Regions from separate parts of the Homo sapiens genome. Here region 2 is linked to region 1. Evidence: fine-mapped expression QTL. Tissue or cell type: whole blood. Region 1 holds a variant in brackets; the other region holds the start of a gene. All regions are shown on one strand. Distances are between the middles of the regions. Region 1 overlaps LOC107985876. Region 2 holds the start of LINC01819 (long intergenic non-protein coding RNA 1819).

The links. PIP is the estimated chance that this variant, and not a neighbour inherited with it, causes the effect.
Region 2: LINC01819 starts here. The variant in region 1 is fine-mapped to the expression of LINC01819 in whole blood (TOPMed, PIP 0.94).

The regions. Positions count from the first base shown.
Region 1 is chr2:43,054,638-43,066,572 of GRCh38, forward strand. It overlaps LOC107985876, which reads right to left. Exons shown (of 3, transcript XM_047446566.1): 3 at 9,408-11,935. Among named protein-coding and RNA genes, the nearest start is that of LINC01819, 21 kb to the left of the region's middle. The variant C/T (reference allele first, on the strand shown) is at 6,417.
Region 2 is chr2:43,033,255-43,045,189 of GRCh38, forward strand. It overlaps LINC01819 (long intergenic non-protein coding RNA 1819), which reads right to left and starts at 6,289. Exons shown (of 6, transcript NR_110585.1): 1 at 5,866-6,289; 2 at 3,442-3,511; 3 at 1,801-1,898. RefSeq lists enhancers at 7,749-8,691, 8,692-9,633, 8,696-8,990, 9,634-10,575.

The sequences.
Region 1 (11,935 bases):
GTGACCAGCTGCACTGGCCCAGGAGTGTCAATGCAAGCCCAGCCAACATGAATGGGAATATGAACGGGTCATTAAAGCATGCAGCACTTCCTCCTCCTCCTTGGCCTCAGCCCTCTCTGCTAGGGCACCTGGCCTCTCCCCTGAGGCTCTTCCAGACTCCCCTTCCCCAAATGCCAAGGGGGTGTCTCAATGTTCAGGCAGGCTGTGGTATGTGCAGGGGTGTGGAAGAAGGAGGTTGGAATGGTCCAAGTGTCAAAGGCGTTCCCCGCTCTTTGAGATGAGGGCACAGTGTACATGACTTGGTGATGTGAAGAAAGCCTCAAGAAGTCCTCTATCCTGAGAGTGTCCCTAATTTCACCAATGATGGTGCCTGAAATGTCCCCATTGTACCCCTGCCTTTGTGTTCAACACTGAGCCACCCACCCATGCACATTCAGGGAAGGGTAGAGTCAGCATGAGGATGGGAAGTTGTAAGACCCCTTTCTCCTGGCAGGAAAAGGGAAAGAAGCTCTGCAGGAAGCTTGCTCCCCAACTTCCCAATCCAGCTGCCCGCCAGATGGGTCGGGTCAGCTGCTCCAGCCATTCTAACGCGGTCAGGCCCTTTCCCCACACCAGGGGAGACCCAGTACTCAGTTTTCCCCCAGTTCCTTCCTGCCAAGGGCCCGGCTTCTGCCAATGCCTCCAGGGCAGACACTGTGCAACTACTCAGGGGCAATGAGCAAGACACAGGCACTGGAATCCAGCAAAGGCACTCAATTTACTGGGTCACCTACGGTTTAGAGACTTAGTGACTATCTGGTCTCGGCGGCCACCCCTGTAAGACAGGACTAATAACATGTGCCTCCCAGGGGCCAGGCTCAGGGTGGGGGCCGGGGGAAGGGTGAGCGAGGCTGGATAGCTGCTCCTCCAGCCTGCCTCCCCTGCACAGATCAATGCCCCTAGCTCAGGCTCCTGAGCTGCCACACTTCCCTCACCCACTCTGAGCTCCTGCAGCCAAGGACAACTCGTGCCTTGATCTGCTTCATCGCCGGATCAGGGTCAGGTGCTCCTGGAGCCACAGGGCCCTAGAGTTCTTATAGGTCGTGCCTGCTGTCCTAGAAGCAGAGCCTGGGAGGGGACCCAGTGAATGTGGTTTATTGGGGAGTGTTCTCAGGAGCAGGGCAGTGAGGGAAGCGGGATGGGGCCAGGGAGAAACCAAGGCAAAGATGTGGCCTCTAGCTTCAGCTGGATCCCAAGGAGCTTGGGAGCACCATGGGATTGGTCCGTCCCACCTGAAGGCAAAGGGGCCAGCTCTGCTACCCTGGGTCAGACATTGGTTTTGGGGAATGGGGATGAAGTTGGGGAATGGGCATCTGGGAGGGGATAATCTCCCAGCTGGTCAGACAGGACAATTCTTCAGAGAAGCAGGCAGCAGTGAGCCTCAGCAGCCAACTCTCCCATAGCAGCTGGGATCTGCATCATGGGCTGGTGAAGGGACCTGGGCAGGCACCCACAGCAGTCACTGATGTACCCCACTCAGAGTTGAGGGGACCCCAGTGGGCCAGCCAGGTGCCAGTCCACACACTCACCTGCAGTCCTGCCTGGGAAGGGCAAGGCCCTGTCTCCAGATGGGCAAATGGGGGCCCTGGGAACTGGGGGGATGCAGGAGCAGCTGAGCCGGGACCAGAGTCCAGGCCGAATGACTTCACATCCAGAGCATGGTCTTCAACCTCCCCTGAAACCTCATGAAGCTGTGGGGAGTGCGTAAGTAAGTGGAGGTTTTTGGGGGAGAAAGTCCAGGAGAGTCAGGGCAAGAACTAAGCAGGGTTTCTAGTCCTCACCTGGTTTTTCCCATGGACAAATCACTGCCCAGGTGGCTGTGACAGGGATTCTGGGCTTGGGAAAGCCCAGAGAACCCCAGACAGGTTCCACACAGCCACCCACTATCCTCCCCTCTTGGGCTTGGTAAGGGGAGAGTGGCTGGCTGGGAGTCTGGGAGGAGAAGGTCCTGTCTCTCCTCATCTTGGAGGTGGGGCTGGGCACATCCAGAGTCACCCACCACAGGAGATTCAAGGGCCGAACCCCACAAGCTGCCAGAACTCCACAAGCTGCCAGGTTTTTCCCATGGATAAATCACTGACCAGGTGGGTGTGAGAGAGATTCTGGGCTCAGGAAATGCCCAGGGAACCCGAGACAGGTTCCACACACCTGGCCACCATTGACACATATGACACTTTTGTGTAAATTAGAAGAAGGCACCCTCACCAGGGAAGACAAACCAACAAAAAAAATTCCCTTTATGCCGGTGAACTTCAGAAAGGGCCCTTTCTTCAGCGTGGGCCTGCCCTGGCCCTCCCCAGCCCCCACACCCTGCCAAGCCTTGGTTCTGCTAGGTCTGTCCCAACTCAGCCAGCCAGCACTGCCCCCCACCCATGCCCTACCCTGCCCTATGGGGACAACCCCACCATCCACCCTGGGCCGCCAGAAACTGAGACCTGTTTCCAGGGTGACAGAGGGAGCAGGAAAAGACTGGGATGTGTGCCTTAAGGCTCTGAAACCCTGAACTAGGGCAGAGATGGGGCAGCATCTCAATGAAGCCGCTGACAGATTCTAGGCCTCACGCCAGCTGCACACCAGACCTGGCAGGGGACCCAGGCTGTGCCAGGCTGACAGGGCTGGTGGAATCAGGGCTGGGGAGCACACGGAGGCCACCCAGCCACCCTGGCCACAGAGGTGCCCCAAAGGCAGCAGAGGCTGAGGGACGTGAGGGTCCTGGGAGACAGAAAGCCCGAGTCCTCACTTAATGCAGGGGCATCCTCTGAGCCCTGCCAGGGGCCAGTGGCAGCTGGAGAGGCATCCAACTCCATCCTGCCCCAAGGGGGCTGGGCATCTCCTTCCCTCCACCCAGCAGCCTGGTTGCTCACCTCAGCACGGCTGTGGGGACGGCCGAAGGCACTAGGGGAGGGGGTCCTCTACCGAGTGCAATCCCGCGGTCCTCGGTCCTGCCTGGCCATCAGTCACCCGGGCAGCGTCAGGCTCCCACTGGATTCCATCAGCCTGCAGTGGGGTCCAGCATCGTTTTTTGTTTTCTTTTTAAGGCTCTAGGAGATTCAACTCTGCAGCCAGACAGGTCAGGAACTACTGAACTGATCAATATTGTCCCTATCGGAATGTGCCTGCTGTCATCACCACAGTGAGTGTCATGGTGTGGATTCTGACTCAGGGCTCTCTCCGCCTCACACTCCCCACACACTCAACATGGCCTGAATACCTCCAGAAATGGGATTCCTGAGACTCCACCGGGGGATCAGGTGGCCAGGTGGTGCTGCGGCAAGCCTGCTTCACATACTTCCTCTCCCAGGTGAACTCCTGCTGCTCTCTCCCTGCAGCCAGCCCCCTCCTGCTTCCTGAGCAACCCCCGCGTGCCCAGATCCTCTCAATCCTCCCTGCTTTCTGTCTCCTGTGAGGGGATGGAGGGAGGGATACGGTTCCAAATTCTATTCCTGCAGGTCAACAGCATCAGCATGGCTTTCCCAGCATGAAGTGGGTCGTTCTTCCAGGCCCACTGGGGGAATTGGAAGCCGCAGGGCAGACTCAGGGAATCACTGGAGATGGTGCAGTGACCTTTAAGTAGCGCTGCGGGACCACCAAGCTCCGGAACTCAGGCTACCCCCATGGACGCCCCCCCAGGTCACTGTTCTCTGCTTCTCAGGCTGGGGCAGTGGCTCCCCATTTCAAAGGTCCCTCTGCCCCAGGGGACTTTCAATCCCTTCCTCAGTGCCCACCCTGGTTTGAAAAGCTCTAATGAGGAGGCCACTGTGTTCACTGCAAAAGAGAACCCCTGGAGCTAGTGAAATCTGAGTCCTGGGCACAGCCTGGATGCAAAGCTTTTCTGAGTTCTCACAACCTGCACGAACACATACGTGGGAAAGTGTCTTAGAGCACGTTCATTTTTCTCTGGCAAAACCTAATTAACACGCAACGCCACCTTCCTCAGGAATCTGCTGCGTGCTATCATTGCAATTCCTAAGAAAGATTTAGTGAAAATTCTCTGGCTTTCCACGGCAGGCCTTGCTCATATTGTGAGTGTGTTTCTTACTCTCTGGACTCATGTCAGCAAGAAAATCAATGTCTTCCCAAGAGATGTGTGGATGATAAGGCTTCTGTTTCCCAGTAAAGTTTATGAACTAAAGCTCCCCCAACACACCCACCAGTGCACCACCCTCTATGGCGGGGGTCCACCTCCGCTTCACCACTCTCTCTTTTTCCCCAACAGCCCAGCCAAAAGGAAGTCAGAATTATAGCAGTGCAGGGAAGGACCAGGGGGCAGAGCCAGAAGTGTCATGGGAGTGAGCAAGACTGGCCTAATGGGCAAAGCCTGACACCAGCAGGAAGAGTGATAGTCCGGGGAGGTAGGCTGGTGGCACCTGGGAAGTCTGGGGCCTCAAATGGCCAGGTAGGGATCATCTCAAATGATGGAGGCCCCAGGGAGTCAGCACCCCAGAACCCAAGAGGGCTGGGGCCTTGGCTTGGCAGAATAATTGTACACATGCCCGGTGCTTTTCTACGTGCTTTATGTTGCTTAGTTCATTTAATCTTCCCAACAATTCTGTACTACTTTCACCCCCATTTTACAGACACGGTAACTGAGGCACAGAGAGACTACGTTGCTTCCTTAGAGTCATACAATTGATATGTGAGAGTCAGGATTTGAGCCCAGGTAGTGTGGCTCGGTGCCCACCCACTAAACCACCACACCACAACCCACATCACAACTCAAGCACACGGCGGAGAGGAGGAAGAGGAGGAGGTGGAGCAATAGTAACAGTCCTGGACCCAGTTAGCAGATGTTCAGGTTACTATGGCTTTGTAACTCCAAAACTTAATGGCCTAAAATATCATCAATGACTAATTTCGCTCCTGAATCTACAGTTTGGGCAGGGCATGGTGGGAAGGTTCGTTTCTTCTCTGCAAGGTGGTAGCTAGGGCAGCTCATCTGCGGACTTGAGGGCCCACTTGTAAGATGATTCAGGCAGTCAGCGAGAACTGGCTGCTGGCTGGGAGCTCAGCCAGGGCTGAGAGCTGGGGCCTCCGTTCCTCTCCACATGGGCCTCTCCACAGGCTGCTCACCCTCCCTCTCAGTACCGTGGCTGGATTCCAAGAGTGAAAACCCCAAGAGACAGGAAGTAGAAGATGACAGTTTCTGAAAGCCTAGGCCCAGAGCTGGCAGCAGCATCACTTTTGCCATATTCTATTATGTGAAGCAGTCACATATTCCAGATTCAACAGGAGGGGATATAAAATTGACCTCTAGGCCGGGCGTGGTGGTTCACGCCTGTGATCCCAGCACTTTGGAAGGCTGAGTCGGGCGAATCACCTGAAGTTGGGAGTTCAAGACCAGCCTGACCAACATGGAGAAACCCCGTCTCTACTAAAAATACAAAAATTAGCCTGGCGTGGTGGTGCATGCCTGTAATCCCAGCTACTTGGGAGGCTGAGGCAGAAGAATCACTTGAACCCGGGAGGTGGAGGTTGCAGTGAGCAGAGATCGCGCCATTACACTCTAGCCTGGGCAACAAGAGCGAAACTCCGTCTCAAAATAAAAAAGCAAAAAAAAAAAAAAAAAAAAAAAAAAAAAAATTGCTGATCTCTAGATGGAAAGAGTGTTGGAATTTGGGGGCCAGGTTTTAAAACTGCCACATGGGGCGTGGGATCCAGAGGAAGGGCTGGATTCCAGGTATGAGGGCAAAGTGGCTGTTTGATCTTGCTCAAAGGTAGACTAAAGGGAAGATAAATTGACTGTAACACTCACCAAGTCCCCAGCATGTACCAGGTGTTGGCCCTCATGGGCATTATCTCAACTTACCTTTGCAAGAACCCTCTGACACAGATTTTTCACCACTCTTTGTAGATGAGTACTCTGAGGCTCAGAGAGGGTGTAAGCCTTATCCAAGGTCACATGCTGGTGAGTGGCCAGCTTTTCCAATTCCAGAGTTGACCCTTTAACTCCTCTGATGGGTTGCCTCCAGATAAGGAGCAGGGCTGGCCCCAGAGATGTGGCAAGGTGGGTCAGGATAAGGTAGGAGAGCAAAGAGCCAGGCTGTCACTCCCCATCCACTCACCTCCTCCTCCAGAAGCCCTCCCAGGCAGGAAAGGGTCCCAAGACACCCTGTCCCAAGGACCCTTTCCCTCTGACACCTCCTCAGTCTGGGATGTGCACCGAGCTTCCCCTCCGCCCTGTCTCCCAAGCTGTATTTCTCACCCCTGAGCAGTTCCCCAAATCCTCCCTTGTACTTCCTTGAAACCTTCCCAGGGCATTCTCCCAATTCCACCTGTCTTAGCCATAAGCTGTGAATAATTACCAATGTAAGGCTTTCAATTTTCGATATAAAATTTTTACTTTAGAAAAGTTTTAAAGAAAAATGGCAAAGATAATA[C/T]AGAGAGTTCCCATATTCTCCACACCCAATTTCCCCTATTATCATCATCTTACATTTAGTACGGTACATTTGCCACAATTAATAAACTGCTATTGATATCAGCCCTACAAGATTAACATTATTATTAAACTATGTTCATACTTTATTCAGATTTCCTTAGTTGTTTTTTTTTTTAACCTAATATCCTTTTTCTGTTCTAGGATGCAGCATTACATTTGGCCATCATGTCTTCTTAGGTCTCCCTTGGCTGTGACAGTTTCTCAGACTTTTCTTGTTTTTGATGATCTTGATGATTTCAAGGAGTATTGGTCAGGTATTTTGTAGAATGTTCCTCAGCTGGGATTTGTCTGATGTTTTAGGTTATGGGTTTGAGGGAGCAAGACCTCAAAGGTGAAGTGCCACTTTCATTACATCCTATCAAGAGTATATGCCACCACCATGACCTGTCACTGTCGATGTCAACTGCGTTCACAGTTAACAGAAGTAGTGTTTGTCAGGTTTCTCCACTATGAAGTTATTCTTTCTTCCCCTTTCCGTGTATACTGTTTGGAGGTAAGTTGCTATGTGGAGCCCACATTTAAGGAGCAGGGAGCTATGCTCATCCTTGAGTATCTGTGAATATCATCTGCAATTCTGTATTTTTGTATCTTCTCCCCCTTTTCTCTATGTAGCCATTTATTTATATAAGTTCAAACTCATGGATATTTCTCTTTTTTTTTAGATGGAGTCTTGCTCTGTTGCCCAGGCTGGAGTGCGGTGGCATGATCTCGGCTCACTGCAACCTCTGCCTCCTGGGTTCAAGTGATTATCCTGCCTCAGCCTCCTGAGTAGCTGGGACTACAGGTGCCTGCCACCACACCTGGCTAGTTGTTTGTATTTTTAGTAGAGATGGGGTTTCACCATGTTAGCCAGGATGGTCTTGAACTCCTGACCTCATGATCTGCCTGCCTTGGCCTCCCAAAGTGCTGGGATTACAGGCGTGAGCCGGGATATTTCTCTTCTACTTTGGGTAATTATCCAATACTACTGTATTTATTTTATTGCTCACTTTGTTCCAGCTTTAGCCACTGGAGCTCTACCAGTTGTCTCCTGTGTCCCTTTGACATACTCCCATCATTTCTTCCTCAGATCTTCCTTACTTTCTGGCACTACAAGATGTTCCAGGTTCATCTTGTACATTTCCTGTTCCAATCCTAGAATCAGCCATTTTTACAAGAAGCCCTGGTTTTTGTGGGGGTTTTTAAAATTGGAGAATGATATTAGAAGCCAAAATCTGAGCACTAAGTGTGCTCACAGCTACTGGGCTGTCATTACTTCTAGGCCCTCTTAGCTGACAGAGCATAGAAATACATGTGTATCTACTAACCTGTATGTATATCACAACAGATATACACAAACATATAAATATTCCTATATGTCACTATCTGTATCTATATTAAACTTGATTTCTTTTTTTTTTTTTTTTTTACTTTTTTTTTTTTTTATTGATCATTCTTGGGTGTTTCTCACAGAGGGGGACTTGGCAGGGTCATAGGACAATAGTGGAGGGAATGTCAGCAGATAAACAAGTGAACAAAGGTCTCTGGTTTTCCTAGGCAGAGGACCCAGCGGCCTTCCACAGTGTTTGTGTCCCTGGGTACTTGAGATTAGGGAGTGGTGATGACTCTTAACGAGCATGCTGCCTTCAAGCATCTGTTTAACAAAGCACATCTTGCACCGCCCTTAATCCATTTAACTCTGAGTGGACACAGCACATGTTTCAGAGAGCACAGGGTTGGGGGTAAGGTCACAGATCAACAGGATCCCAAGGCAGAAGAATTTTTCTTAGTACAGAACAAAATGAAAAGTCTCCCATGTCTACTCCTTTCCACACAGACACGGCAACCATCCGATTTCTCAATCTTTTCCCCACCTTTCCCCGCTTTCTATTCCACAAAACCACCATTGTCATCATGGCCCGTTCTCAATGGGCTGTTGGGCACACCTCCCAGACGGGGTGGTGGCCGGGCAGAGGGGCTCCTCACTTCCCAGTAGGGGCGGCCGGGCAGAGGCGCCCCTCACCTCCCGGACGGGGTGGCTGGCCGGGCGGGGGGCTGACCCCCCCACCTCCCTCCCAGACGGGGCGGCTGGCCTGGCGGGGGCTGACCCCCACCTCCCTCCCGGACGGGGCGGCTGCCGGGCGGAGGGGCTCCTCACTTCTCAGATGGGGCGGCTGCCGGGCGGAGGGTCTCCTCCCTTCTCAGACGAGGCAGCTGGGCAGAGACGCTCCTCACCTCCCAGACGGGGTCGCGGCCGGGCAGAGGCGCTCCTCACATCCCAGACGGGGCGGCGGGGCAAAGGCGCTCCCCACATCTCAGACGATGGGCGGCCGGGCAGAGACGCTCCTCACTTCCTAGATGGGATGGCGGCCAGGAAGAGGCACTCCTCACTTCCTAGGTGGGATGGCGGCGGGGCAGAGACGCTCCTCACTTTCCAGACTGGGCAGCCAGGCAGAGGGGCTCCTCACATCCCAGACGATGGGCGGCCAGGCAGAGACGCTCCTCACTTCCTAGACGGGGTGGGCAGAGGCTGCACTCTGGGCACTTTGGGAGGCCAAGGCAGGCGGCTGGGAGGTGGAGGTTGTAGCGAGCCGAGATCACGCCACTGCACTCCAGCCTGGGCACCATTGAGCACTGAGTGAACCAGACACCGTCTGCAATCCCGGCACCTCCGGAGGCCGAGGCTGGCGGATCACTCGCGGTTAGGAGCTGGAGACCAGCCTAGCCAACACAGCGAAACCCCGTCTCCACCAAAAAAATACGAAAACCAGTCAGGCGTGGCGGCGCGCGCCTGCAATCGCAGGCACTCAGCAGGCTGAGGCAGGAGAATCAGGCAGGGAGGTTGCAGTGAGCCGAGATGGCAGCAGTACAGTCCAGCTTTGGCTCGGCATCAGAGGGAGACCGTGGAAAGAGGGAGAGGGAGACCGTAGGGAGAGGGAGAGGGGGAGGGGGAGGGGGAGGGAGAGGGAGAGGTACCTTTTTTTTTTTGAGACGGAGTTCCGCTCTTGTTGCCCTGGATGGAGTGCAATCTAAACTTGATTTCATACTAATATTACAACTCTAATAAATTATCACAAGGATCATTCTAGCCTTCTCCCCTTGCCTGTCTGTAACCTTCCACTCCCACAGTGAGAAACCTGTCTGTTACCATCCACTATCCATTGACTTACTCATTCAGTTCCAATACACATGTATAGTGGTACTGGAATTGTTAACCACACTCCATGAGAAGCTACTTTATCAACTAGAGTATAGTGCTTAGGCACAGTTTCTTTAGTCTTTAGTCTTATAGACTCCACTCATTTCCAAAGTTGCTTAGATCAAAAACTCCCACCCCTCCCCCACTTCAGTGAAGTTGTTTTACATGTTTTTAATCCAGTTAAATAGTTTTGTCACATTTTGCATTCCATCTTCGTATCCTCTGATCTCCTAAATGATTCTTTTATTTTGTGTAAAAATGTACTCTTTGTGCTATACATTTCTACAGGTCTTGACAAGTACATAGTGTCAGGTATCTACCTGCAATATCATACAGAATAATTTCACCCACCTAAGAAAACCCCTGTGCTTCACCTATTCAACCATACCCCAACCCTCAAGAACCCTTCCATTTTAAGCATATTTAAAAGGTTTTTCAAAGCCTATTTGATGCACATTATCTCATTTAATTTACAAAGCAACCCTGTGTGTTAGGAAGAGCAGAAAACATCATTCCCACTCTATAGAGAAGGAGACTGAGGCTTAGAAGTATTAACAGGCCTGCCTTTGGCCACATGGTTAGTATGTGCAGACTTTAGACTGGCCCTGCTGCTTTATTCCTGCTCTGCTCAGGCCAGGAGTGGTTCCCGAACCCAAGACATAGAGAGAAGGGGGGATTGGGTTTGCAATCAGGCAGATAACAAGGCCGTAATGAAAACAAGCCTTGGGCTGACAGAGGGACATCTGAACTCTAGTTCTGGTTCTGCCACCCATTCACTGGGCAGCCTTGAATAAGTCACTTTCCTTGGCTGGGCCTCAGTTTTCTCCTATATAAAGTGAGAGATGAGATGACCCTCGAGGTCCCATCCAAGTCTCGCAGGCTATGTCTGGCCTTTGGCATGAAGATGACTACAGTCAACAGCGAGGCTTGACAGGCAGGCAGGGGAGATGGCTGGAGCAGTAAGGTTCAAGTCCACCACAGAGGAGCAGGCCCACATAGGCCAGTGATGAGTGGCACTGGGGTCACCATTGGTGTGCCTAGGGTGGCAGCTCCCAAGGCTACTCCAGGCCCCACTTCCAGCAAGCTCTCTAGGTGATGAAACCACAAATGCTTTTATATCCCCTTCCATGGTTTATGACAGTGTTTCTGAAACTGTAGTTCAAGACCCAGTGCATTATGATCTGTGATTTTTTAAAAAATAGAAAGAAACAGAACAGGATAGACTAGATCAATGCATTCAACAGAATATAACAGATAAGTATAAACTTTTGTTTCGATTATATGTGTGAGTAATAGGTCAAAATTTTACATGTATTGGTCAAACAAGATGTGATCACTGGCTGACAGAATACATTTTACATCTCAGTCTCATCTATCCTTACTGTAACCCTGTGAAGAGGGACGATTATTAGTACCATTCCTATTCTCCAAGTATGGAAAGTGAGGCCCAGAGAGGGCAAATGGTGCGCTTATGGCCCCCAGTTAGTGAGGGGCAGGGCCATGAGGAACACACCGTCTCCCGGACCTAGCTGGGGATTTCTTCCTTTAGCCCCACACAGAATTGTGGCACTTGTCTGCTTCTCAAAGTCCCAAGGGGAAAAGGTCCAGGTGTGAAGGTGTCTGGGCCCATAAACCTGGCCAGCCCCACCTTGGCTTGGCAGGATGAGGGGTCACATAAGCTCAGTGGTAGTTCAGCCAGGACCAGGTTCTGCCAGGTAGGGCACTGAGGGCAGGGGAGCCAGCTGGCGGGAGAGGTTGAGGAAGGTCACACGGGCCTGCTCCATCCTCCCATATGCCACACACAAACCACGTATACCCAACACACTCGTGATGGCGCCCGCTGGCTGGCTCTCAAACTCCCTCAGTGCCCTAAATCTCAGCCCCAGCACCTCTGGGTCTTACGGTGTTTCCTTTAGTCCCGCCTCGGCTACGCCCCAGGTTCTCTTGCTTTGTCCAAAGCCAACATGACCCCACCAGAGTGTTTTTGTTTGTGGTTTTTTTTTTGCCCTTTTCTGTCTTTCTTGCCCCCCTGATTTGGACACCCACAACACCACTGGGTTGTTTTGTGATTTATGAGCTCAGAAAACTCACTAATCCTTCTCCCTCAATTACCTTGATGTAAAGAAGTCCTCACTTTCTCTGCAGACAGGAGGGCTGTACTTCTCCCTGGGACACAGACCACCAGGCCCTGGTCAGGACCCCTCCCATGTGGCTGTGTGGTTTATTTGTGGCTCAAAGGTCATCATTGTCAGAAAACCCCTGACAGTGATGAGAAAAAGGGA
Region 2 (11,935 bases), 21 kb before region 1:
ACGGGGACATTATCCTGCGTGATCTGGGTGGACCTCATGGAATCACAAGGGTCCTTCTGAAAGGGATGTAGGAGTCAGGCAGAAGGTGACCTGATGGAGGAGCAGATTGGAGTGGTGCTCTTTGAAGATGGAGGAAGGAGCCACAAGCCGAGAAACTGAGCCAGAAAAGGCAAGAAAACAGATTCTTTTCTGGAGCCTCCAGAAGGAACCAGCCCGACTGACACCTTCACGTTAGCCCAGCGAGACTGATTTTGGGCTTCTGGCCTCCAGAACTGTAAGAGAATAATGTGTGTTGTTTAAGCCCCTCAGTTTGAAGTGGTTTGTTACCATGACAGCCGCAGGAATCAAATGCCCCCGACCTCTATCCTGTCCACTTTACCAGCCCGGCCCCTGCCAGGGTCTCCCGGGACCAAATGCTTGCCGGCCCTGGGCCCTCCTTAGAGCCTGTCTCTCTTGGCCTCCCATCAATATGTGATATTTTCTCCGTTGGTCGTTCTTAAATCTTGTGACAGCCCACTCCACTGGTGTTCCTCATGCCTTGATGCTCCTCCTTAGCCCCCTTCCAGCACTTTCCAGCCCCACCTCTTACCCCACCTTCAACATGGCCATGTGGCCCAGGGTCCTCTTCTGAACCCTCTTCTCACTCTCTGCTTTCTCTACTTCCCAGTGATAATCCCAGATCAAGGCCATGGGTCCACACCCTAATAACGATGGGTCCCTTATGCTCTTCTCAGCAAACAGGTATTAATATATTCCCTGCCTGTTGAAATCCAATTCACCTGTTCATCCCTCAATGCCCCACTCAAATGTCACCTCCTCCAGGAAGCCTCCCCTATCTGTCATGCCATATGCTTGTTAACAGTGTCCATCCGTCGACCCCATGGGATTGTGTGCCTAATTTATAAATTGAACTTAGAAGCTAGGATCTACAATATTTTGAGACATAGAGAGAAAAACTATGCTCACATAACTTTCATTGCAGCATATTGTTATAATTGATCTATTTTATTATTGTTGTTGTTCATCTCTTACTGTGCCGAATTTATAAAATCAACTTAGAAGCAGAGTCATGACCTAGTCAGCCCTGGACTCTCAGCACCCGGCACAGTGGAACCCAGCTCTGGGACATGCTCTCCCTCCTCACTGCCATAAACACCTGAGCAGGTGTTGGAGCTGTGGAAGCTGCCCTCTGCCATTCTGCTGCCTTCTGGCCTAGGCCAGGCTGTCACAGTGGGGTTCACTTCCCTTAAAGAATCATAAGAATAGATGTCAAGTTTCCATTCTGGCCACACTGGCCTCCTGACTCCTACTCCAACAGGCCATCCCCTGATGTCCCACCTGGGACATGAATCATTCCTCTCTCCAGCGTATCCATGCTGTGGCTGCCACCCACCTGCGTGTCCCTTAGGGGCCATCTGTCAAGGTATCATGGTGCTTGTGTTCAAGTAACCCTTGTTTTACCTTGTAATGGCCCCAAAGCACAAGAGTAGCAATGCTGGAAATTTGGATGTGCCAAAGAGAAGCCGTGAAGTGCTTCCTTTAAATTAAAAGGTGGAAGTTCTTGACTTAATAAGGAAAGAAAAAAAGTGTATATTGTGCCAAACAATGAGATACTATGCAGCCATTAAAAATTGTATTTTCAGGCTGGGCATTGTGGCTCACACCTGCAATCCCAGCAATTTGGGAGGTCAAGGTGGGCAGATCGCTGGAACTCAGGAGTTCAAGACCAGCATGGGCTACAGGGAGAAACCCCCGTCTCTACAGAAAACACAAAAATTAGCCATGCACGGTGGTGCACACCTGTGGTCCCAGCTACTTGTGGGGCTGAGGCTGGAGGATCACTTGACCCTGGGAGGTCGAGGTTGCAGTGAACCACGATTGCCCTGCTGCACGCCGGCCTGGGTGACAAAGTGAGAGACCCTGTCTCAAAAAATATACATAAATAAATCAAATAAAATTGTATTTTCAAAGACTATTTTAATGACCCAGGAAAATTCTTATGATATAATTTATATGGAAAAAAAAATCAAGATTTTAGATCTCAGATCTTAGCTCAGGTAGCTAGGATCTACAATATAACATTTTGAGACACATGGAGAAAGACCATACTCACATTACTTTTCTTGCAGCATATTGTTATAATTGATCTATTTTATTATTGTTGTTAATCTTTTACTGTGCCTAATTTATAAATTAAACTTTATCATAGGTATGTATGTATAGGAAAAAACATAGTGTATACAGGGTTCAATACTAACTACAATTTCAGACACCCACTGCGGGGCTTGGGCCATGTCCCCTGAAGATAAGAGGGGACTACGGTAACACAATTTATCAAAAACACATTGCTCCCAGACACCAAGAACTTTGCAGGGATTCACATCCTTTTACTTCATAATCCCACTTCTAGGACTTTATCCTAAAGAAATAATCAGAGGCTGGGCACGGTGGCTCACGCCTGTAATCCCAGCACTTTGGGAGGCTGAGGCGGGCAGATCACCTGAGGTCGGGAGTTCAAGACCACCCTGACCAACATGGAGAAACCCCGTCTCTACCAAAAATACAAAATTAGCTGGGTGTGGTGGCACATGCCTGTAATCCCAGCTACTCGAGAGGCTGAGGCAGGAGAATCACTTGAACCCAGGAGGCAGAGGTTGTGGTGAGCCGAGATCATGCCATTGCACTCCAGCCTGGGCAACAAGAGCGAAACTCCATCCCCCCCGCCCAAAAAAAAAGAGAGAAAGAAATAATCAGAGATGTATGCAAAGATGTATGTGTAAGAATGTTTATTAAATTATTATTTAAAATAATGAACAATTTTGAAACAGTTCACATGCCTAACACTAGGAAATTGGCTTAGTAACCACTGTACCGTACAATAGGATACTATGCAGCCATTTTACATCGTATTTTCAAAGAATATTTTAATGACCCAAGAAAATTCTTATGATGTAATTGATATGGAAAAAGATCAGGATTTTATATATACTATGTGTGTATGCACATGGTATTACCTCAGTTTCATTTAAATGTGTATGTGTATAGCAATAATGGTTATCTCCATTTAGTGTGATTATTATGGAGTATTTTCATTTTATTTCTTATACTTTTTCAGATTTTCCATATTTTTTACAATTAGCCTATATTTAGATTACAGTTTTTAATGCTATTAGTTTATTTTAATGGGGAAATAATTCATTGATTACTTGTCTGTTTTTCACTGAGGCAGGTGGAGTGGTGTGAAGGAAAGCTTGGGGCTGCCAAGCCAATGTATCTGCTCTTGGAGCCTGGGAGCTTCTTGGGTCCTGAGAGGCCTTTTATGTGTGTGAGGTGCCAGTTCTCTGAAATGAGTGCTGTGGCTTGGGGGTGCGCTGGAATATTTTTTATCAGGAGCCTGGACCAAGGGCTAGATCACTCTCCATATGTCATGGTGGGTCCTACCTGAAAGGGGAGGTCGTTTTCAAGATCAGGTACCTGAGGAAGAAGCGGGTCTTCAAAATAGAAGGTGAACCTGAAAAGAAGGTGATAAAAATTATGATGGGACAAAGGACTTGGTGGGGTCTCTGTCCCCTCATAAACCTCCACATAGGATGGACAGGAGTTGGGAGCCTCCAGAGGGTAACTGGTTAAGGTAGGACTAGGACACCCCTGCCTTGGGAAGCTGGATTGGGTTTACAGTTCTTCTGGGCACCATGTTTACGTCCTGTTGCCTTCCCTTCAGTGCCCTTATTAGTGCCATCTGGTCTGATCTTCCCAGGTTTCTTAGCTGTGCTTGTTAAAAGAAGCGAAAGACTGGGTTTCGGCCAGGTGTGGTGGCTCGCGCCTGTAATCCCAGCACTTTGGGAAGCCAAGATGGGCAGGTCACTTGAAGCCAGGAGTTCAAGACCAGCCTGGCCAACCCAGTAAAAATACAAAAAATTAGCCTGGTGTCGTGGCACATACCTGTAATCCCAGCTACTCAGGAGGCTGAAGCATAAGAATTGTTTGAACCTGGGAGGTGGAGATTGCAGTGAGCCGAGATCACGCCACTGTACTCCAGCCTGGGTGACAGAGTGAGACTCGGTCTCAAACAACCACCAAGGCTGGGTTTCTAGCTATGTTTGGCCCACAGAATTAAAAAAGTGGTGGCATCCCTGGGGCCCAGCCAGAAAGAAGCCGTGGGAATGAAGAAAAGTGACCCAAAGAGGAGAGTGCACAGAGGGAGGTGGAGTGAGGGCTGACTGAGCCAGCTGTCTCTCCTACCCAGGAATTCTTCCTGAGCTAAATCTCGGAGATTCTGGTTTGTAAAGTAATAGCTCTCCTTATATTTGTCTATTGTGTAAGTGCATGATTATGCTAAAAAAATTAAAAATTCAAATAAGGAAAACCAAAATAAAAACAAAGAAAAAGAAGCAATCTAAAATTACCCCTTAGCTCACCACTCGTCAATGTTTTATTGTATATCCTTCCAACGTTTTTCATAAATCAATGCTTTATTATTTATTTATTTATTTTTTTGAGACGGAGTTTCACTATTGCCCAGGCTGGAGTGCAATGGTGCAATCTCGGCTCACTGCAACCTCCGCCTCCCGGGTTCAAGCAACTATCCTGCCTTAGCCTCCTGAGTAGCTGGGATTACAGGCATGTGCCACCACGCCTGGCTAATTTTGTATTTTTCAGTAGAGATGAGGTTTCTCCATATTGGTCAGGCTGGTCTCGAATTCCCTACCTCAGGTGATCTGCCTGCCTCGGCCTCCGAAAGTACTGGGATTACAGGCATGAGCCACTGCGCCCAGCCCAATCAATGATTTAAAAATCAGATTATTTTATATACATCTCAGCTTTGTATTATTCTGTTCGTTATGCTATCTGCTTATTTCTATGTCATTAGATGCTCTTCTACATCATTTTTAAAGGCTCAATTGTGTTTTGTTTTCTGGATGTTTCACAATGTATTTAACCCATGCCCCATTTTTGGACATTTAGGTTGCTTCCGGTTTTTCAGGCTTAGAAGTCACAGTGAAGGACAACTTTGTGGCTAAATCTTTGAATGACCACCTATGTATATTCCCTGGAATAAGTCCCAGAAATAGACTCCCTGAAAGAAAGGACACTAGGGTTCGTTTCCATCCCTGGGCAGATCCCGAGGAAGGCTGGGTTGTTCTGGAGGTCTTGGCGCTGGGCCCTGCACTCCAAGCTTCAGGGCCTCCCAGACCCTTAGTGCACGTTCCACTACACTAAATCACCCCGCCCCTCCTCTCCCCACTCTGCCCCAGGCTTTGGACTCACCCAGGAGAATGAATTACACCTCCCAGCCGGACGTGAGGCCATTTGTCTTGTGCTCTGGAATCCTGATTAGATAAAATCTGAACAGAGCACATTTACTTATTTAGTGTATTTCTGGGTGGGTGGGTCCTAGCCCTTGGGGATCACCTTCTCCAGATCAGGGTGAAGAGTTTACAGAAGGGAGGAGCAGGTCACATATCCAGAGCAACCAGCTCAGGCATTCACCCTGCGGGGTCACAGGAACCCCACCGTCCCCAGCTCAGGCCCACTCCACTCCAGCTCCAATCTCCCCAGTCCTGCCTCCCCGCCTCCAGCTCAGGAAGCTTTAGGCGTTGGTTGCTCATCATATGGCTGAGGCTGGCAGAAAGAAGGACTAGGTGCCCAGTGATGTGGCCACATCGCACCTCTGGCGGGAAGTGGACTCTCTCCGACCCCCCTTGGGGGCTCTGGTGGCCTCTGCGGGACCTCGGGTTGTCTGAGCACACGCACCCTCGCCCTCTCTGGGACCTGATGCCTCGATTTAGGCTCAGACCCTGTAAATGCCCCTTGAGAGCCCTCAAGGATCCAGGGTTCTCTTGTCCTCAAAGAAGCAGAACATACCTGCTCACCAGCCTGCAGCTTGTCCTGTGTGTCCCGTCTCCTCAAGTACGGAGAGGCCAGGGCTTCCTGAATCTCATCAGATCCGAATCTCCCCAGATCTCATCAGGGCCTCTTCCCAGGAGACACCAACTCTCAAGGTCTGGAGACACACCTGGAACCTGTATTTTCCCAAATGGTCCTCCTGGCTCTTCCCACAGAACTGTCTTCTTGTCCCTGGTCTCCACTGATGGGGAACAAGGCATGTGACCCCCTGGGTCGGGCAGGCCCAAGGCAGGCGAGGCAGTGAGAAGCAGGCGAGGGGATAGGGCTGCTTGCTCAGGTAACTTGGGTTCAGGAGGTTTGGCAGCCGAGCTGCCTCTCCTGGCAGCGGGGCTTGGCCAAGGGCAATGTGCAGCCACACAAAGCCATCCTCACAAAGCCACCCTCACAGCCTCTCTGGCCGAGAGTCCCTGGGCGCTCACTTGCCGGGATGCACAGGCACGCCTCTGGCCAGGCCGGGCTGCGGGGGTTTGTGGCCTGGAGAATCAAAGAGCCGCCCTCAGCTCGGAGAACACTTCCTCTAGAAGGCTCTGGTAACAGCACACCGGGTCTGAGGAGAAAGAGCCTCTGTGGGCCACGGTGGGTCTTTGCCCACAGAGGCTCACACACCACCCCTCCTGTTCCAACACCACCCCCTGCCCGGCCCCAGTTCTCCTACCAGCCCAGGGGACTCAGGTGGGCCAGACCTTTTCACACTGCCCCTCCCACACACACCACAGCAAGAGGGTGAGCCTCCCTCTTTCTCTGCCGGGGTCTCTGGGGCCTCCCACGACGGGGGTGGGTGGTGCCATAAGCCCTGGGTGCCTGTGGGCGGTGGTCCCACGGATGCCCTGCTCAGTTCCAGACATAGTTGTTATTTGGACTTTTCACATCAAAGTAATTAATTAAATATGCAATAGAATACATTCTCTTCCTCAGTCAGTGGCAACCCCATCCCTTCATTCACTGAGGCCGAAACCTTGGATAGCCGTCCTGGAGTTTTTCAGACCCATGTCCAAACCACTGGAGCATCTTGTCAGCAGGATTCCAACTTCTTCCAGAGCCCACCCGCCTCTCACCACCTCTCTGTCATTTCCCACCTGGATGATTACAACAGTCCCTGTCGAGGCCCTGGCCCCACCACGCCACCAGTGGGGAGAATGCTTCCTCTAGAAGGCTCTGGTGGATTTGGGTGATGAGGGGGAGAGGGGTAGTCCCGGGCCAAGCCACACCAGTGACCCCACGTGTGTTCAGAACCCTCCTGTCTACATTTGATTTCATCTTGGCTACTCTTGTCAAGACATGCAGTTTGTTAGTCTTGAGCAAGTAAGAGTCCTTATTTGTATGCCCTCACATGTTATCACAAATCCCCCAGATTCTTTTTCAGATCTCATGCCCTAATTTGGGGTTTATGAAATCTACCATGCTGATAGGGATTCCTGTCTGTCATGGGGACTTTGAGCCATGACTCAGAACAAGACACTTATCAATCTGGGGCCTCTCCGAAGATGCTGAGACCAGGGCCAGTCTCAGCTGCAACGCCCTGCTTGGAAGCCACTATGGGATGATTCTGCAACAGATATCATGATGCAACAGATGCCCATGAATGACATGGGAAAGCTGGGCCCCATCGCCCAGGGGGACACTCCTGCTGTGCTCTGTCAGCAGGAGGGAGCCTCCTAGGAACTTCATCAGGACCCATTCTTTCTCTTTTTCTTTTCTTTTTTTTTTTTTTTTTTTGTGAGACGGAGTCTCACTCTGTCACCCAGGCTGGAGTGCAGTGGCTCAATCTTGGCTTACTGCAACGTCCGCCTCCTGGGTTCAAGCGATTCTTTTGACTCAGCCTCCTGAGTAGCTGGGATTACAGGCATGCACTGCCATGCCTGGCTAATTTTTGTATTTTTAGTAGAGACAAGGTTTCACCATGTCGGCCAGGCTGGTCTCAAACTCCTGACTTCAAGTTGTCCTCCCACCTTGGCCTCCCAAAGTGCTGGGATTACAGGCGTGAACCACTGCGCTTGGCCAGGACCCATCTTTGTGTGGGATCCCTGGCTCAGTGCTAGGACAGAAACAGGTTTTCCTTGGACTCTGTGGTGTGTGCTTGAGTGTATGTGGGTGAGTGTGTGTGTGATAACGCACCCTGCCCTGCCTTTCCCTCCCCACTCCTCCAACCTGGAGGTGACAGTCACAGGGCCCAGCCCCTCCCTGCCACCTTCCTGCCCCAGCCCCATCTCCATTCAGGGGCAAGTCCTGCTGTGGTGCTTAGAGTGCAGCTCTTTCAGGCTTTCCTTTCGCTTAGCCTTGATTTCCAGGCCACCATGATCAGACTGGGCTCCCAGGCAGCATCGGAGCATCCCCAAATCCAGGGCTGGGAGGAGCCAGGCCATCTTGTCCAAGTAAGGACTTGAAGTTCAGAGAGGAGAAGGCACCAAGCTTGTGTCACCCGCAGGTCCATGCAGAAGGGAGATTAGAACCCAGATCTGCTTTTCAGCCCAGGCCAGGCCTGCTACAAAAGGGCGGGAGGGGGCACCCAGGCTGAGGTGCTGGAATTAGCAGTTCTCTTTACCCTCAAATTAGCCCTGAGGCTGGCCCAAGCCCCTCCCTGCCAGCGTGCCCCTCTGTCTTCAGGAGCCCCCAGTGCCTGCCAGGGGCTTCTCCCCTTTTGCCAGCTTGCATCCATCCCCCACGGTTCCGTCTCTTGGCTGCTGCTTTTACAGGCTCCAAGCAGTGGGGAGGCTGATGGGGAGAGGGGGTCTGTGTTGGACTCAGCCAGACTTACTTCCAGCCAGTCCTCTTGCCCTCCCCTCCACAGACTGCCTAGAGACCAGGGAGCTCTCCCAACCCCACCCCTCGCCCCACTGCCACAGCTCTGACTCAGCCCATAAATTACCTAGGAATGGTCCGCTGACTCAGCCAGGAAGCCCAGAGCCCCCTTCCCCACCCTCAGGCCTCAACCCCACAGCTGGCTTTCATTCCAGAGTACTTGGCCCCCTCCCCTCAGGAAATTCCTGGAAAATATCAGGCTTCTTGGAGGGGAGATCTAACCACAGCCCCGGCAGGGAGCAAAGCCGCTGCAGCCTCATCCATCATTCTGCCCCTGCCCCTCCTCCAGCAGCTTGTGTGTTGCATGGGACTGAGCATGGAAGTGTCAGACCCCATAAAGTGATGGGTGCATGGCTCTGAGGGGAACTCCGGGGAGGGAGGAGAGAGGTGAGGCTGGCATGGGGTAGGGCAGTCAGGGCAGGCTGCTGGGAGGTGGAGGACTTTGTTTTGGGCCAGAAACGATGATAAAAACTGCTAAGTGCAGAAATGGAAAGCGTGCTTCAGGCCCAGGGGATGGCATAAGAAAAGGCTAGAGGTAGAAACCAACCGGTGTGTAGGGGGATGGGGAGGAAATTTGAGAATAAGCAGGGCTAGGCCAGTCGCGGTGGCTCATGCTTGTAATCCCAGCACTTTGGGAGGCCGAGGCAGGTGGATCACCTGAGGTCAGGAGTTCGAGACCAGCCTGGCCTACATGGCAAAACCCTGTCTCTTCTAAAAATACAAAAATTAGCCGGGCGTGGTGGCACACGCTTGTAATCCCAGCTGCTTGGGAGGCTGAGGCAGGAGAATTGCTTGAACCGGGGAAGCGGAGGTTGCAGTGAGCCGAGATTGTGCCACTGCACTCCAGCCTGGGTGACACAGCAAGACTCTGTCTAAAAACAAAACAAAACAAACAAACAAACAAAAAACAAAAACAGAATAAGGTCTAGAGGAGTGGCCGGACCGGAGAACCTGGGCTGATCAGGCCAGAGGGCCGGGGCCGGGGCCAGGCTGTGGAATTTGCAGGAAGTCTCCAAAGCAAAGGCCCAAGAGACTCTGGGAGACCTGGGAGCAAAGGAGAGCGTTTGGGGGCGGGGAGATGAATCTTGGACTAAAAGAACCTTGGCCAAGGAACACTGGTCCCTGCAACATCCTTGGACCACCTTGGGATCCCAGTGCCTGCTTCGACCTGAGGGGTGGGGCGGGGCATCTGATCATCACACTCCAGTCGGGGCAGAGGCAGGGCTCCGACTCTCAAGCAGCTCAGACTGAGGGACATGGCTGTGGCCTCAAAGAGCCCCCATTCTGAGGTGGGAACACAGCCCCTTCCTCAGGGAGCCCCCAGTTAAAGGGAGACACAGAACTCCCAGGCCCTTCCTGCCCCCCAGGCCTTAGTGTCCCCTCAAATCCGTTCCTCAGAAACCCCATTGGCTTTTGAGGGAAAGCCAAGTCCAATTCTCTGATAAAACTTTTCTTTTTTGGCTGCTTCCCCTCAGACAATACAAACTTATAAATGTACAAAAATTCCTGGCCAACCTCCCCCAGGAAGGATGGCTGGGTGATGGGCTGTGGCCTCAGTAATGGAGTCACCGAGAAGGGAAGCTGGCTGAGCAAAGGTACGGCCAGGGTAGGGGGGCTGTCCCTCCTGCCATCCATGGCAGAGGGGTGGACACCAAGCCAGGGTACTGTGGGGAAAGGTCTGCTGCGTCTCCAGCGTTTACCTACCCTTCCTGGGAACAGCAATTCTGCCATGGCCTGGCAGGAGTCAGGGAGGGGTGTGATGGATTCAGAGAGAAAGGTAGGGGCGCAGCCAGTCCGACGAAATGAAAGCAGAGAAAGAGGTGGAGAGGAGGAGGACACGGAGCAGAAACTCCTTGAAAGCAAGGTTTCCTCGTGGATTCTAGGCCCAGAAGCCAGGGAAGCTTCTTCATAAATGGGCGTCCCCAGGAAGGCCTCCTCATTCCCAGACTGGAGCTTTTGAGGCTCTAGTGTCTGTCAAAGCCCTCAAAACATTATATCGACATTCCCAGGTTACATGTGGGACCCCCCCTGACCTCATCCTGAGCCCCAGAGACAGAGCTGCCTTGGTCACTGGTGCATCCCAGCACCTGGTGTGTGTTGGGGGGTGGGGGGTCCTTCCCCCCCGCTGTCTGTCCCAGTGCAAAAAAGAAAGAGGGAAAGACTGGGCCACCGGAGGCCAGACAGGCCCAGCACGGATGTGGCCTCTGGGAAATGGCCCAGGGGCTTGCCCTCCTTCCCAGCTGGCTCTGGGAGCCTGAGCAGGGGCTGGCCCGCCCTCCCCTTTGTGACAGGGCAGGAGGGGGTTAGCCAGGTTACCTCTGTGGGCCCCAGCCCCTGAGGGGTGGTGGGTCTCTCAGCCAGGCTGGTCTGGGGAGCGGGGAGGGCATCCTGCCTCATTGTCACTGGCCCAGCGCATTTCCAGAAATTCTTCCCATCGGTAAGAAGAGGAAAGAGAGGCCAGGGCAGCCTCACAGGCCAAGTGGGAACCAGGTTTCCCGGAGCTCTCACGGCCCAGCCCGAGCTTGGGGCCTCCTGTCTGGGCCAAAGGGTCAGCTCAGCCCTGGGACGGGGATATGTCAGGAATAACTGGCCGGTGGACCCAGGACTCACCTTATCCATGCTGGGCCAGGCCGTGTTTGTGTTTGCAGGACAGAGACAGGAGGAAAGAGGCCTGGAAATGCCTGGGCTTCCCACAGGACTTATTTAACTCTAGCGTCAGGGAAGACTAAAGCTTATATTCATTCCACAGTATATACTGCCTCCCCTCTACCCTCATTTTAGTAGGTAGGTATAGTGTGAATGTGTGCAGGACATGTGTGCATCGTGTGTGTGCACGTAACCCGTGACATGTGTATTTTGGGCTAGTATAGATAGGTCTTGAGGGAAAGACAGAGGGCAATGTTTTTTCTTTCTCTTTTTTTTTGAGACAGGGTTTTGTTCTGTCACCCAGGCTGGAATGCAGTGGTAGGATCATGGCTCACTGTAGCCTCCAACTCTTGGGCTCAGGTGATCCTCTTGCCTCAGCCTCCTTGAGTAGCTGGAACTAGAGGCACACACCACCACATCTGGCTAATTAAAAAAAAAAAAAATTTGTAGAGGCAAAATATTGCTTTGTTGCCCAGGCTGGTCTGGAACTCCTGGCTTCAAGCAATCCTCCTGCCTTGGCCTCCCGAAAATTATTATTACTATTCTCCAGTAAAAAACATTTCCCTAGTGTGTTCTGCCTAGC